Homo sapiens: one gene and its partner. The protein of the gene in region 1 interacts with the protein of each later gene in a pairwise test. Each region holds a gene or a part of one and is shown on either strand. Other genes may lie near its edges. The genes, in order: SHISAL1 and TMEM140.

The links.
Region 2: the proteins of SHISAL1 (region 1) and TMEM140 interact in binary tests that used the Homo sapiens proteins (3 or more experiments, as listed by UniProt).

The regions. Positions count from the first base shown.
Region 1 is NC_000022.11:44,281,647-44,285,460, reverse strand, and holds part of SHISAL1 (protein shisa-like-1 precursor), read left to right. Parts: coding exon 1-33; intron 34-3,814.
Region 2 is NC_000007.14:135,154,334-135,158,147, reverse strand, and holds part of TMEM140 (transmembrane protein 140), read right to left. Parts: intron 1-3,814.

The DNA of each region.
Region 1 (3,814 bases):
ACCGCTGATGACCTTCCAGAGTTCGTCTGCCTGGTGAGTGGCTACAATTGAGACCCAGAATGATTTGGGTCATTGTCTTTGGAGAGCTTGGAGAATACGCCATCACTCTCGCCATAGTGTTTGGCTCATTGGTTGCCTGATTGTTTGCTTATCTTGTTGTTTGCCAAGAAAAATTTCAAACTGTTATGGGTAGCCTACAACACATGCCTAGACAGGAAAGTCAAAATGAGAGGTGGAAACAGAGCTTAGAAGCAAAGCTTGCAAGCTCATTGCGCTTAGAGCCCAGTGTGAGAGAGGTAACCACTAAACATTTAGTGGAGTTTTGGGTTACCTAGCTGCCAAGGCAAAGGGGAAAACCGGATGGCTTTTTGAGTTGTAAATCTGGCCAAAGGAAGCAAATCAGTCTGTCCAGCCAGATTTTTCAGCATGAGGTTAGAAAATACAAATGTTACTTAGTTCCTTATGTGTACATGCCTTGTATGGCATGAGGGGTACTAGTTCTGACTCAGGCAGGCTGTGAAGGAAGGAAGGAAGGAAGGAAGGAAGGAAGGAAGGAAGGAAGGCAGGAAGGCAGAGAGGTGGCATCTCAAGGGTTGGCCTTGTGGGGTGGCTGCCCCAGGGTTATGTTCAGATCTGAGCTTGTCTACTGCAATTCCCATTTCCGCCCAGTTCCAGTATGGTGGGGATGGGCCTGACCTAATCCCAGGCGGCCCTGGGTAGTGCAGCATCTAGAGTTGGAAGGGGAGAGGCAGGGTCTGTGCGTTTGGAGCAGGAACTCCCTGGGAGGCTGGCTAGCACCAAGGACAGGAGCCAGACTGAGGGTCGATTCCCAGGTCAAGGGCTAGAGTGAGAGGTTCGGATGCTCTGTGGGGGCTGAGCTGCAGCCATGGGCACACAGGGCTCAGGGCACGTCATCCAGGGACATCATGATACCAAGCCCAGGCTGCAAGACCCATCCCAGAGCCCCCTTGCTGGAGGGGTGCAGGAGTTTGCCGCACAGTGACCCCTGGGTTCATGTGCAGGAGCTTTGCAGGTAACCTAACCTGGGTCTGAGTCCCGGCTCTGCCATTTACCTGCTCCTTGACTTCGGGCATGAGATTTCACCCCTCTTAACCTTCCGATCCTCGTGAAGGAGGAGTGGGTAAGACTGCCCCCTCCCAAGGATTAACTGTGCACCTACCTGGCACATAGTAGGTCCTCAGTTAATCCTTGCTGCCTCCTCTTTGGAGGCAGCAATGACGTGAGTTAGTGATCGTTCACATAGCTAGCAGGTAGTGACCTTTTCAATTATTATTAAATAATTAATAAGATGCATAAATCAGCTTGTGCTTATCGATTGAATAATGACACCATCCATCACACAGGAGACAAAGACACAGCCCTGTGTGGCTCGGTTTGACAAATGCTGGCAGAGTGGGTCCTTGGGCAGGGGTTTGTGCCAGGCTCTGGGGGATGTGGAGGTGATGGGTAGAGAAGAAGCCAGCCTCCACCCTTGAGCAGTGGGGACTCCAGAGAGCTACAGACAATAAAATGTCTGTTGGCAGGACCCAAGAGTGGGGTGTTCTGAAATGTGGATCCTTTGCAACAGACACACCTAGAGGGTTTGTCAAACTAAAGACCCAGAGCCTACTGACCAGGCATCTCTGAGGGTGATGCTCATAGGCACTACAGCTCAGGAGGCACTGGAAAACGTCTATAAGAGCCAAGCTTTTTGATAGCTGAGAATCTTCCGTTTAAAACGGTGGTCCTCCCCCACTCCCGCACCTTTTGCATGCACATACATTTGGAATAAATAGCTCACACCTCGCCGAACACTTGCCAAGGGGATGGAGGATGTCGTGAGCACCCTGCACTCAGCACCTGGGTGCTGTTTTCCTGCCCCGGCCTCAAGGTCTTCCATTTCCTACGTCACTGTGCTTGCTGCTAACAGCTCCCCGATCTCATCCTGCCCAGAACGTTTTTGCCTGTCTCAGCAGCAGTTCCCACCCTACCCCTGTTCCATATTGCTTTTCCCCAACAAGCACACATTGTGCACCTGCTGTGTGCCAGGCACTGTGCTATGCCATCAGGATGCAGAGAGCTTGCCAAGCCTGCAGGGATTGTGCACGGAGCCTGAGTGGGCAGCTGAGCTCCAGGTCCAGGTGGGACACTTTTCCTTTTGGAGCTCAGAGGCTCTTCGTCTTTCCTGACCGTCCTGAGTGCAGGCTCAGGAAGGTGTTCCCATCACCCTGTGAGCGTGAAAAAAGGTTGTCAGAACCCACAAAGGTGTGGTGCAGGATAAGGGAATAGCCAGTCCCTGGCTGGATTCACGGGCACCGTCCCACTCCCGCTGTGCTCTTTGACACGCAGCGTGACTCTGGGTGAGGAGCTTCCTTTTTGGGCTTCAGTTTTGCCAGTTGAGGAACCAACGTGAGAGGGGATTTCATTTGGAGATCAGGGAGGAGCCTCCTTTCCTGCCACTCCAAGGTCCTCCCAGCTGTGTGACCCAGGACATCTCCAGCATTATAGCTCTGACTGTAACCCGACTAGGTCCCTGGTCCCCGGGTGGCCCAGCCTCCATGTGGTGTCCCAGTCAATGAAACACCACTTGGCACCCAAACAGCCATTACAAACGCCCTCTGCGGCCCTCCTCGGGCACACTGGAGAATGTCCAGGCAAGGAGTGTGGACCAGGGAGGTTCTTGAACACTCATCAGCCCCTGGAAAGGCTTCTGTTCCCCTCACAGCCCTCTCAGGAGCCTCCTGCTGAGTGCCGCTGCTCTTCAAAATCTCTCTTCACTTCTGCTTTCACCTCCAGAAGTCTCCTATGAGCCCAGCCTCTGTGGCTTCTCTGCCTTTCTCCCCTGCCCACCCCAGCTCTTTCTCCTGCGAATGAATCCAGCTTCTCCAGCTCCTCAGGGCTCCCTGTGCAGGGGCAGCAGGAGGAAGACAGCTGCAGACACACCCACATCCCCTGAGCTCCTGGAGTCTCCTAATGAGGCCAGCCACTTCTGGGGAGGCTTAGTGGGACCCAAGCAGTGGGTCAAGGACCACCGCAGGGGGGACAGAGACAGGAGGCCAAGGCACTGCCAGGACAGGGCAGTCAGGTGATGCCAGGGGAGGTGGAGGCAAGGGGCAGCTGTGCTGGGGGCCAGGACTGCCTCAGTGCCCAGGAGTTCCCTGCCCCTGGCTCCCACCCTGGCTGCTGCAGCGGGAGGGCCCACGGTGGGCGGGGAGCAGATCCCAGAGCTGGGGCAGAGGAGTAAGCTGGGCGACTGCTGGGCCCAGCCTCAAGGCCTTCGGCTCCCCAGCGGAGGCCGGCACAGCCTCCCCTCTCAGAAACCCCTTGGGTTTGGTGGGTGAGGGCCCCGAGGCAGCCCCCAGGCCACCGCTGAACAGCAGTATTGAAGGCCCTGGCGGCAGTGGCTCAGCCCCACACAGCCCCCGCCTCTTGGTCCCCACAGACACGCACTCCATCAATCATAAGAAATGTGATTTTCCTGCCAGCTGGCTGGGCAAAATCCAAGTGCTGCCGAATCGCGTGGCCAGGCAGGTGGGGCGTTGTGCCGTCCCCCGCCCGTGGGATTTATAACTGAGTTAGGAGCCAGCAGGGGCGTCAGGAGTGGTGCAATGGTCACAATGCTCAGCTGCCTTCGTTTAATTTCACGGAGAAGCGGGGCTTTCCCTCCGCTTAGTAGCTACTGAACTCAGACTGTGAAGTTTCTTGCTCAGATTCTCTGGACTGTGTCTTCTCTGGTGACCCCAAGACTCCACCCGTCATTTCCTCCTGAAAGTAGTCAGGACAACCCCTGAGGGCCCAGAGCCCAGTGTGACCC
Region 2 (3,814 bases), on another chromosome or scaffold:
ATTTTGAGAGTTTAATGCTGGGCTGTGCCCCACCTTCTTGCTGAGTTCAACTTGATGTGGCTGAAGCTGCTGCCCAGTCAAGGAGAAACAAGGAATCTATGCTCTCCCGCACATACCTAGGACAATACCCAGTGCCTGCTACGGGTTGCTGTGAGACCGAGACTCAAGTAGACCACCCTCCCTACAGCTTCTTGACCATGCTGCTCACCTGATAGGGGCCCCACCTTCTCTGTTCACAAGCCCACAGCTGGCACCATTTTGAGAGTTTAATGCTGATTCATAACCAGTCTGAATTAACAATCAGGCAATGTGGCTGCAGCTGCCACCCTGGTAGGAAAGGGACAGGGAAGACCAAGCTCTCCTAAGCACACTTAGAACAGTGCCCACCACCCTGCTACAGGTGGCTGTGAGACTGGGGAGTAGCTCACCCAACCCATCACAGCTTCCAGCAACACCAACATGGACTGCTTGGATCCCAGTTGGCTGCTTCAACAGTGCTACTGCCATCACTCACATGACACCACCTGCTCAGGGGCTAGAGATCATGCCCACACACTGGGCTCACCACTCCCACTACTAGCTTCTAAGCAAGCCATGTGGAGGCCCAAGAATCAGCCCTCCAAGACCCACTAACCACCAGAGCAGCGTAAGCTGCTGTGGGGCCTAAAAAGGGCACACTTACCCCACTGTTGCCACCACTGGGGTCCAAAGGCTGCTCAGTTGGCATCCAAGTCCCAGCTAAACTTCTGGGGACTTAGTCTCAGCTAATTACCATACTCTATCCCACTGAGGAAATCACAGAGAACACTGACCCTATGCCGAAGAAGTCATAGAAAGATCACACGACTGCAGGCATCCAAAATCAAAGTCAAAGCATCTTAACAACATGCATATATCCTCAGGAAAAAATTCTCCCTTATAAAAGCAATTTCAAAAAATTGGAACAAGCAACTGCTACACCAGACGCAAAGAAATCAATGGAAGGATACAGGAAACATGTAAAAGCAGAGAAACATGACACCATTGTATTAGTCCATTTTCACACTGCTGATAAAGACATACCTGAGACTGGGAAGAAAAAGAGGTTTAATTGGACTTACAGTTCCACATGGCTAGGGAGGCCTCAGAATCCTGGCAGGAGGTGAAACACACTTCTTATATGGTGGTGGCAAGAGAAAATGAGGAGGAAGCAAAAGCAGAAACCCTGATGAACCCATCGGTTCTCATGAGACTTATTCACTATCACGAGAATAGCATGGGAAAGACCAGCCCCCATGATTCAGTTACCTCCCCTGGCGTCCCCTCTCACAACATGTGGGAATTATGGGAGCTACAATTCAAGTTGAGATTTGGGTGGGGACACAGTCAAACCGTAACAATCATCAAAGAACCACAACAGCTGTCCAGCAGCAGCAGATCCCAATCAAAGAGAATTCTTCAAAATGCTAGATAAAGAATTCAAAATATTGATTTTAAAGAAGCTCAATGAAGTGCAAGAGAAATCTGAAAACTAATACAAAGAAATCAGAAAATTAATCCAGGATATAAATGAGAAATTTATCAAGGAGATAGACATCTTAAATAAAAACAAGCAGAAATTCTGGAACTAAAAAATTCATTGAAGGAAATACACCATATGCTCAAAAACTTCAACAGTAGACTACACCAAGCAGAAGAAAGAATCTCAGAACTCGAAGACAGGACTTTTGAAATAATCCAGTCAGACAAAAATGAGGAAAAAAGGATAAAAAAGAATGAATAAAGCCTTTGAGATGTCTGGGACTGCAAGAAGCAACTGAACTTATGAATTATTGGTATTTCTGAGGGGGAAGAGAGATTAGAAAGTTTAGAAAACATATTTAAAGAAATAGACATCCAGATACAGGAGGCCCAGTGATCCCCAGGAAAATACATTGCAAAAGGACCTCACCATGGCATATTCAAAATGTCTGAAGTCAAGTGAAAGAAAGAATTTTAAAATTAGCAAAAGTGACTAGTCACCTATAAAGGAAATCCCAAATCTCATCAGACCAATTGAGGACTTTTCAGCAGAATTCTTACATGCCAGAAAACAATGGGATGGCATTTTCAAAGTGCTAAAGGGAAAAAAAAAAACAGTGTGTCTGTCAGCCAAGAATTTTGTATCCTGCCAGAATAAGCTTTATAAAAGGAGAAATAAAGTCCTTCCCATACAAGCAAATGCTGAGGGAATTTGTCACCACTAGACTGGTACTACAGGAAATGCTCAAAAGGATCTTAAACACTGAAATGAATGGTGTTTTTAATTAATTATTTTTGATAGAGGGTCTTGCTTTGTCACTCAACCTGGAATACAGTAGTGCAATCACAGTTCATTGCAGCCTTGACCTCGTGGGCTCAAGCAATCTTCCTGCCTCAGCCTTTTGAGTAGCTAGAAATACAGACATGTGCCACCATGCCCGGTTAATTTTTAATTTTTTTGTAGAGACAAGATCTTGCTATTTTGCCCCGGTTGGTCTTGACCACCTTCCATCAATTAATGCCCCTGCCTGGCATCAATTAATCCCCCTGCCTAGCATCCCAAAGCACTGGGATTAAAGGCATGAGCCACGATGCCCAGCCAAAAGGTTGATATTCACCATCACAAAAACATACAGAAGTATAAAACTCATAGTTTGTATAAAACAATCATACAAAGGAAGAGAAAGGAATCAAATGGCAACATGACAGAGTTTCATCAAAACACAAAGTCAAAAAGGCAAAGACAAAGAGTCTATAAAACAACCTGAAAACAATAAACAATATAACAGAAACAAAGTCTCACAGATCCATATTAACCTTGAATGTAAATGGATTAAATGCTCCACTTAAAAGATACAGATTGGCAGAGTGGATGAAAAAACATGATCCATGCTGCTTACAAGAAACTAACCTTACCCATAAAGACATATAGACTGAAAACAAAGGGGTGGAAAAAGATATTCCATGTAATTATAAACCAAAAGCAAGCAGGCATAGCTATACTTATATCTGATAAAACAGATGACTTTAAATTAAAAATAGTAAGAAAAAAGATAAGGTCATTGTATAATGATGTAGGGATAAATTCAGCAAGACGATATAATAGTCCTAAATATATATGTACCCAACATTGAAGCACCCAGATTAACAAAACAAATATCACTAAAGAAAGAGGTAGACAGCAATACAATAACTGTAGGGGACTTTTAACACTCCACTCACAACACTAGACAGATCATTGGGACAGAAAATTAACAAAGAAACATTGTACTTAAATTGAACTTTAGACCAAATGGACTTATAAAACATTCTACCCAACAACTACAGAATATACATTATTTTTGTCAGCACATGGAACATTCTCCAAGATAGATCACATGTAAGGCCACAAAAGAAGTTTTAACAAACTTTTTAAAAATTGAAATTATATCAAGTATCTTCTCAGACCACAGTGGAATAAAACTAGAAATCAATACCAAGAGGAACTTTGGAAACTATACAGATAATGGAAATTAAACAGCATGCTCCTGAACAACTACTGGGTCAATGAAGAAATTAAGACAAATTAAAAACATCTTTGAAATGAATGCAAAAACACATTGTACTAAATCCTGCAGGTTACAGCAAAAGAAGTGCTAAGAGGGAAGTTTATAGCATTAAATGCCTACATCAAAAAAGTAGAAAGATCACAAATTAACAACCTAACATTGCACCTCAAGGAATTAGAAAAGGAACAAACCAAATCCAAAGTTAGCAGAAAAGAAAAAATAAAGATCAGAGCAGAACTAAATGAAACAGGGACAAAAAATTTACA